Linked DNA regions of Homo sapiens: region 2 is linked to region 1. Evidence: fine-mapped expression QTL. A gene starts in region 1. The other region holds a variant in brackets. All regions are shown on one strand. Distances are between the middles of the regions. Region 1 holds the start of GBA1 (glucosylceramidase beta 1). Region 2 holds the start of DPM3 (dolichyl-phosphate mannosyltransferase subunit 3, regulatory).

Evidence for each region. PIP is the estimated chance that this variant, and not a neighbour inherited with it, causes the effect. A credible set is the group of variants that fine-mapping cannot tell apart.
Region 2: its variant is the best candidate, but not a certain one, in a credible set for the expression of GBA1 in testis (GTEx, PIP 0.54).

Annotation. Positions count from the first base shown.
Region 1 is chr1:155,238,673-155,242,980 of GRCh38, reverse strand. It overlaps GBA1 (glucosylceramidase beta 1), which reads left to right and starts at 1,732. Exons shown (of 11, transcript NM_000157.4): 1 at 1,732-1,895; 2 at 2,264-2,351; 3 at 2,904-3,095; 4 at 3,219-3,365. The coding sequence starts at 1,869.
Region 2 is chr1:155,139,989-155,144,456 of GRCh38, reverse strand. It overlaps DPM3 (dolichyl-phosphate mannosyltransferase subunit 3, regulatory), which reads left to right and starts at 3,926. Exons shown (of 2, transcript NM_153741.2): 1 at 3,926-3,966; 2 at 4,212-4,468. The coding sequence starts at 4,217. RefSeq lists enhancers at 3,627-3,686, 3,857-3,986. The variant T/C (reference allele first, on the strand shown) is at 2,159.

The DNA of each region.
Region 1 (4,308 bases):
GATTTATTGAAAGTCAAACAGCCAGTAAATGGTGTAGCCAGGATTCCAAACTTGCTGTCTCACTGAGACTGTACTTAATTACTGGAGGGACCGGGTGTGGTGGCTCATTGCTATAATCCCAACACCTTGGGAGGCTGAGGCTGGTGGATCACCTGAGGTCAGGGGTTCGAGACCAGCCTGGCCAACATGGTGAAACCCCATCTCTACTAAAAATACAAAAATTAGCTGGGCATGGTGGTGGGCTCCTGTAATCCCAGCTACTCAGGAGGCTGAGGCAGGGCAATTGCTTGAGCCGAGATCACACTGCACTCCAGCCTGGGCAACAGGGCAAGACTCTGTCTCAAAACCAAAAAAAAAAAAATTACTGGAGGAACCTAGAAGAAGAAATGATCAATTTTGCTTGGAGTGTATCTAGAAAGACTTCACTGAGATCATTTAAAGAACAAAAAGGATGGCTGGGGTCCAGCGCAGTGGCTCATGCCTGTAATCCCAGCACTTTCGGATACCAAGGCAGCAGATCACCTGAGGTCCAGAGTTTCAGACCAGCCTGGCCAACATAGTGAAACCCCATCTCTACTAAAAATAAAAAAATTAGCTGAGCATGTTGGAGGGCACCTGTAATCCCAGCTACTTGGGAGGCTGAGGCAGGAGAATCACTCGAACCCAGGAGGTGGAGGTTGCAGTGAGCCAAGATCACGCCACTGCACTCCAGCCTGGGCAACAGAGTGAGACTCTGTCTCAAAAAACAACAACAACAAAAAATACAAACAAGAGACAAGTAGTTCCCAGGTGCCTACCAAGTGGTCAGGCACTGCACTTACCTCACTGACTGCAGTAACCACCCTTTGAGGTTGTGGCATTGCCTCCATTTTCCAGGCAAGGAAATGGGCTGAGAGCTGGGATTAGTCAGGTCATGACTGTGTGTGCCACTCCCGCTAAATCTCATTTGATGTGGTTCATGAGGCCACACCATGGACAGCTTCCTCCTTGTGTCCACTGAGGATATGGCTTTGTACAACACTTTGGTTTTTGAACGACTTTACAAACCTCCCTGTCTTGTGAGGAAGGAAGAACAGTTATTACCATCTGCATCTGATGATGAAACAAGGGACGCTGCAGAGGAGCCGCACTGACCACTCCCTCCCTCCAGTCCTGTCATCCCACTGCCAGTGTCCCACCCTCTTGTGCCCTGCACTTCACTGGCTAATAACCCCCCTCACTTTTTCCTCTGTGAAGCCATCCTGGATAATTCCCCACCCACGAATGGTCCCTCCTCATCTCAGAGAGCTCTCCATGCACACCTGTTACCGTTTCTGTCTTTATCTGTAAATATCTGTGTGTCTGACTTCCATGCCTCACACACCTCTATAGGGCAAAGACTGTCTTAAACATCTTGGTAGTGTCAGTATTTTGCACAGTGAAGTTTTTTTTTTTAAATTATATCAGCTTTATTTGTACCTTTTTGACATTTCTATCAAAAAAGAAGTGTGCCTGCTGTGGTTCCCATCCTCTGGGATTTAGGAGCCTCTACCCCATTCTCCATGCAAATCTGTGTTCTAGGCTCTTCCTAAAGTTGTCACCCATACATGCCCTCCAGAGTTTTATAGGGCATATAATCTGTAACAGATGAGAGGAAGCCAATTGCCCTTTAGAAATATGGCTGTGATTGCCTCACTTCCTGTGTCATGTGACGCTCCTAGTCATCACATGACCCATCCACATCGGGAAGCCGGAATTACTTGCAGGGCTAACCTAGTGCCTATAGCTAAGGCAGGTACCTGCATCCTTGTTTTTGTTTAGTGGATCCTCTATCCTTCAGAGACTCTGGAACCCCTGTGGTCTTCTCTTCATCTAATGACCCTGAGGGGATGGAGTTTTCAAGTCCTTCCAGAGAGGTAAGAGAGAGAGCTCCCAATCAGCATTGTCACAGTGCTTCTGGAATCCTGGCACTGGAATTTAATGAATGACAGACTCTCTTTGAATCCAGGGCCATCATGGCTCTTTGAGCAAGGCACAGATGGAGGGAGGGGTCGAAGTTGAAATGGGTGGGAAGAGTGGTGGGGAGCATCCTGATTTGGGGTGGGCAGAGAGTTGTCATCAGAAGGGTTGCAGGGAGAGCTGCACCCAGGTTTCTGTGGGCCTTGTCCTAATGAATGTGGGAGACCGGGCCATGGGCACCCAAAGGCAGCTAAGCCCTGCCCAGGAGAGTAGTTGAGGGGTGGAGAGGGGCTTGCTTTTCAGTCATTCCTCATTCTGTCCTCAGGAATGTCCCAAGCCTTTGAGTAGGGTAAGCATCATGGCTGGCAGCCTCACAGGATTGCTTCTACTTCAGGCAGTGTCGTGGGCATCAGGTGAGTGAGTCAAGGCAGTGGGGAGGTAGCACAGAGCCTCCCTTCTGCCTCATAGTCCTTTGGTAGCCTTCCAGTAAGCTGGTGGTAGACTTTTAGTAGGTGCTCAATAAATCCTTTTGAGTGACTGAGACCAACTTTGGGGTGAGGATTTTGTTTTTTTTCTTTTGAAACAGAGTCTTACTCTGTTGCCTGGGCTGGAGTGCAGTGGTGCAATTTTGGCTCATTCCAACCTCTGCCTCCCAGATTCAAGCGATTCTCTTGCTTCAGCTTCCCAGGTAGCTGGGATTACAGGCGGCCACCACTACGCCCAGCTAATTTTTGTATTTTTAGTAGAGACGGGGTTTCACCATGCTGGCAAGGCAGGTCTCAAACTCCTCACCTCAGGTGATCCGCCCACCTCGGCCTCCTAAAGTGCTAGGATTACAGGTGTGAGCCCCTGCGCCCGGCCAAGGGGTGAGGAATTTTGAAACCGTGTTCAGTCTCTCCTAGCAGATGTGTCCATTCTCCATGTCTTCATCAGACCTCACTCTGCTTGTACTCCCTCCCTCCCAGGTGCCCGCCCCTGCATCCCTAAAAGCTTCGGCTACAGCTCGGTGGTGTGTGTCTGCAATGCCACATACTGTGACTCCTTTGACCCCCCGACCTTTCCTGCCCTTGGTACCTTCAGCCGCTATGAGAGTACACGCAGTGGGCGACGGATGGAGCTGAGTATGGGGCCCATCCAGGCTAATCACACGGGCACAGGTAACCATTACACCCCTCACCCCCTGGGCCAGGCTGGGTCCTCCTAGAGGTAAATGGTGTCAGTGATCACCATGGAGTTTCCCGCTGGGTACTGATACCCTTATTCCCTGTGGATGTCCTCAGGCCTGCTACTGACCCTGCAGCCAGAACAGAAGTTCCAGAAAGTGAAGGGATTTGGAGGGGCCATGACAGATGCTGCTGCTCTCAACATCCTTGCCCTGTCACCCCCTGCCCAAAATTTGCTACTTAAATCGTACTTCTCTGAAGAAGGTGAGGAGGAAGGGGACAAGATGACATAGAGCCATTGAAACTTTTCGTTTTTCTTTTCTTTTTTTAAAATTTTTTTGAGGCAGAATCTCACTCTGCCCATTCTGTCGGCGAGACAGGAGTGCAGTGGTGTGATCTCCCCTCACAGCAACCTCTGCCTCCCAGGCTATAGTGATTCTCCTGCCTCAGCCTCCTGAGTAGCTGGAATTATAGGCGTGCGCCACTACCACCTGGCTAATTTTTGTATTTTTAGTAGAGACAGGGTTTCATCATGTTGACCAGGCTAGTCTTAAACTCCTGACCTCAAATGATATACCTGCCTTGGCCTCCCGAAGTGCTGGAATTACAAGTGTGAGCCACCGAGCCCAGCAGACACTTTTCTTTTTTCTTTTTTTTTTTTTGAGACAGAGTCTCGCACTGTCACCCAGGCTGGAGTGCAGTGGCACAATCTCAGCTCACTGCAACCTCCACCTCCCGGGTTCAGGTGATTCTCCTGTCTCAGCCTCTCGAGTACCTGGGATTACAGGTGCCTGCCACCACGCCCGGCTAATTTTTTGTATTTTTAGTAGAGACAGGGTTTCACTATGTTGGCCAGGATGATTGCGAACTCCTGACCTCGTGATCTGCCCACATCGGCCTCCCAAAGTGCTGGGATTACATGCGTGAGCCACTGACACTTTTCTTTGCCCTTTCTTTGGACCCTGACTTCTGCCCATCCCTGACATTTGGTTCCTGTTTTAATGCCCTGTGAAATAAGATTTCACCGCCTATCATCTGCTAACTGCTACGGACTCAGGCTCAGAAAGGCCTGCGCTTCACCCAGGTGCCAGCCTCCACAGGTTCCAACCCAGGAGCCCAAGTTCCCTTTGGCCCTGACTCAGACACTATTAGGACTGGCAAGTGATAAGCAGAGTCCCATACTCTCCTATTGACTCGGACTACCATA
Region 2 (4,468 bases), 99 kb after region 1:
ACCAATATTTGAAAGTCATTGTGACCAGTGAGTCCTTGATTGAGAAACCAGAAAGATTTGGTGTGGAAATGGAAATGTGGCTAGGGCTTTGAAGGTCGTATAGCAGGTTTAAAAACATTTTTTTTTTTTTGAGACAGAGTCTCGCTCTGTCACCCAGGCTGGAGTGCAGTGGCACAGTCTCGGCTCACTGCAACCTCCGCCTCCCGGGTTCATGCCATTCTCCTGCCTCAGCCTCCCAAGTAGCTGGGACTACAGGCACCCGCCACCACGCCCGGCTAATTTTTTTTTTTTTTTTGTATTTTTAGTGGAGACGGGGTTTCACCGTGTTAGCCAGGATGATCTCGATCTCCTGACCTCGTGATCCACCCGTCTCCACCTCCCAAAGTGCTGGGATTACAGGCGTGAGCCACCGCACCCAGCCTAAAAAATGTTTTTCGCTAGGAGCGGTGGCTCACGCCTGTAATCCCAGCACTTTGGGAGGCCGAGGGGGCGAATCACCTGAGGTCTGGAGTTTGAGACCAGCCCGGCCAACAAGGTGAAACCCCAACTCTACTAAAAATACAAAAATTAGCCAGGCATGGTGGCAGGTGCCTGTAATCCCAGCTACTCGGGAGGCTGAGGCAGGAGAATTGCTTGAACCCGGGAGGCGGAGGTTGCAGTGAGCCAAGACCGTGTCATTTCACCCCAACCTCGGCGACAAGAGCAAAACTCCGGCTCAAAAAAAAAAAAAAAAAAAGTTTGGGCTGAGCGCGGTGGCTCACGCCTGTAATCCCAGCACTTTGGGAGTCCGAGGTGGGAGGATCACAAGCTCAGGAGTTCGAGACCAGCCTGACCAACATGGTGAAACCCTGTCTTTAATAAAAATACAAAGATTTGCTGGGTGTGGTGGTGCGTGCCTGTAGTCCCAGCTACTTGGGATGTTGAGGCAGGCTAATCGCTTGAACATGGGAGGCAGAGGTTGCAGTGAGCTGAGATCATGCCACTGTACTCTAGCCTGGGCCACAGAACGAGACTCTGTCTCAAAAAAAAAAAGAAAAGTTTTTATTTGTTTTAATTTTTACTTTAACAAAGGAATTTGTATAGTTTTAAAAGCCAACTAGTTCAACAAATATTTTTCGGGGTGGCGGGGCATTTTCAAGTGAAAACCGGGAAACCTGCTCAACAAATTCTGAAAGCTGTAACTTCGGTGGGCGCCGTGGCTTACGACTGCAATAGCAGCACTTTGTGGGGGCTGAGATGAATTGCTTGAGCCCAGGATTTTGAGACCAGCCTGGGCAACATAGGGAGACCCCGTCTACACACACACACACACACACACACACACACACACACACACACACACTAGATGGGCGTGGTGGTGGTGGCCCACTTCTGTAGTCCCTGCTACTCCAGAGTCTGAGGTGGGAGGATAGCTTGAGTCCAGGAGGTCGAGGCTGCAGTAAGCCATGTTTGCACCGCTGCTCTCCACCCTGGGCAACAGAGCAAGACCTTGTCTGAAAAAAAGAAAAAGAATAGAAAAAAAAAGAGCTGTAACTCTACAAGGCTTTTAATGAAAAATAACCATCCCCTGCTCCTCTTCTTTAACCCTTACATATACAACCTACATATACAACTACGCTCCAGTTTCTAGGCTGCTTCTTCTGGTACTTATCTGTACATTTCTTCAAGCAACACTCCCACCTAGGCCTCCCAAAGTTCTGGGATCACAGCTCCACTGTCCCCAGCTCCAATTTTTAGTTAAATCAATACTTAGTGTTTACATCGTTACGGCTGTGAAAATTTTCTTCACAGCTGAGCCATTTGTGTTTGTGCTAAGACTGTGAATCTGTAAAAACTGCTTTTGTTAATTAACATCCAGGACATACGGCTGAGAAACTTCATTTTCTAAAATCATAGTCACAAACTTTGCTATTTGAAATCAGTCAGTGCGAATGGAACATCCTACTCTTGCCAGAAGTTCTGAGCCACGTGGATTACTTTGGCCTCCCAAAGTGTTGGGATTACAGGCACGAGCCACTGTGCCCAGCCTAGATAGTGGGTTTTTGGACACTATATTCTATATTTATCTTGACTTTGTAATTTCCAAGTGGTCCCTCAGCTTGGACTTCTTGATCCCTTCACTTAAAGTTATGCTTACCTCGAACCGATCAAAACACTG[T/C]TTCATTTAAATTTTAGCTAGCCTATAGTATCAGCCACTTGGGAGGCTGAGGCAGGAGGATCACTTGAGCCCAGAAGTTTGAGCTTCGCCTGGGCAACATACCGAGACTTCAACTCTAAATAAATAAGTAAATAAATTTTAAAATATAAATTTTAAAGTCAAGCCTTTCCCATATCCTGTTGTATTAGTTCATTTTCACATTACTGATAAAGACATACCCGAAACTGCAAACAAAAAGAGGTTTAATTGGACTTACAGTTCCACATTGCTGGGGAGGCCTCAGAATCATGGCGGGAGACAAAGGCACTTCTTACATGGCGGTGGCAAGAGAAAAATGAGGAAGAAGCAAAAGCAGAAACCCCTGATGAACTCATCAGATCTTGTGAGACTTATTCACTATCATGAAAATAGCACGGGAAAGTCTGGCCCCCGTGATTCAATTACCTCCCCTTAGGTCCCTCGCACGTGGGAATTCTGGGAGATACACATCAACTTGAAATTTGGGTGGGGACACAGCCAAACCATATCATCTGAATGACCATATTTCTTCCTTTTTAATGAGTTGCCCCACAGTTCTTCTAGTGTGTGATCTCTCTGTTGTGGCAAGTTAATAAACCTAACTGTCAAACTACAGATGTGGTCTTTATAAGACAGGCTTATCAATTGTCTTTCCTTTCTTATATAACTCTTTGTTTCCTCTGAAGTTGATAATTGCCTAACCTTTTCTCTTACTTTGTTCTCTCTCTCTCTTTCTCTCTATACATAATAAATTCATCCCCAAAACTGTTCTAAAGAATTATACTCTTTCTTTCAATGCCTTCACCACTTCAGGTAATTCTTCTGGTCTTTCTTTTCTTTTCTTTTTTTTTGAAACCCAGACTCCTGGAGCCCTTCTTCCTCTGGCTCCAAGTTATATTGGTTGTTGTCCTTGTAAAAATATGACTACCTCTGTTCTAACAATAATCTCAAGCCTTCATGGTTAGTTGTCAATGCAACTGCTTCACTGACTCCTGCTTTCCCCCTCCACCTGAAAGGGGTCGAGTCTCTTGACATCTCTGTATCTCCAAAGTCTATCATGGTAATCAAGAAATGTTCTGGCCGGGCGCTGTGGCTCATGCCTGTAATCCTAGCACTTTGGAAGGCTGAGGTGGGCCAGTCACTTGAGGTCAGGAGTTTGAGACCAGCCTGGCCAACATAGTGAAATCCCCGTTCTCTGCTAAAAATAAAAAAATTAGCCCGGCGTGGTGGCGCGCGCCTGTAATCCCAGCTGCTCGGGAGACAGAGGTTGCAGTGAGCTGAGATCGAGCCACTGTACTCCAGCATGGGCAACAGAGCGAGACTTTGTCTCAAAAAAAAAAAAAAAAAAAAAAAAAAAAAAAAGGAGTTCTGTCCCGCCTAGGCACTATAGAGAGACCCTGTCAAGAATGGAAAGAAAGAAATCTTCGAATGAATGAACTAGTGAATGAAGGAATGGATTTCAGCGCTGGAGAATTGAGTTTAAGGGGAATGGTATTATATTCCCATCTTGTTGCAACATTTAAGGATGTCCTCAAGCCCCACGCCAGCCTGGAGCGTAGCCCAAGGTGGGAAAGCAGCGCCGAGGCCTCTCCAGACCCGGCCTGCTCCCCGTTTGCGGAGCACAGCCCACTGTACCCCCGCCTAGATTGAGGCGCTGGCCAGGAGTACACCAGGCGCCGCCATGTGAACTACAACTCCCAGAAGGCCGCGCGGAAGCGGAACGTGAACCAGGGAGGACTTCCGGACGCCAACATCCGGGCCGCGCGGGGAAGGGGAGACGTGGGGTAGAGGTAAGTGTAGGTTGAAGGCTGAATGGGGAGGGCGAGAGATGGGGAGTGGGTCTCAAATATAGAGGGGGTAGCAAGGTGGAAGGGGCCCTTCCACCTTTTGTGGGCACTCAAGTTCGGACCTCTGGGATCGGCGATTCCCCTCTGGCCAGGGCTGGTTTTAATGCTCTCCGTGGGCGGGCTTCGGTTGAGTTTGGTCCGCTTTTCCTTTCTGCTCCTCAGGGGAGCATTGCTTCCTTCTCTCGCAGTGACCATGACGAAATTAGCGCAGTGGCTTTGGGGACTAGCGATCCTGGGCTCCACCTGGGTGGCCCTGACCACGGGAGCCTTGGGCCTGGAGCTGCCCTTGTCCTGCCAGGAAGTCCTGTGGCCACTGCCCGCCTACTTGCTGGTGTCCGCCGGCTGCTATGCCCTGGGCACTGTGGGCTATCGTGTGGCCACTTTTCATGACTGCGAGGACGCCGCACGCGAGCTGCAGAGCCAGATACAGGAGGCCCGAGCCGAC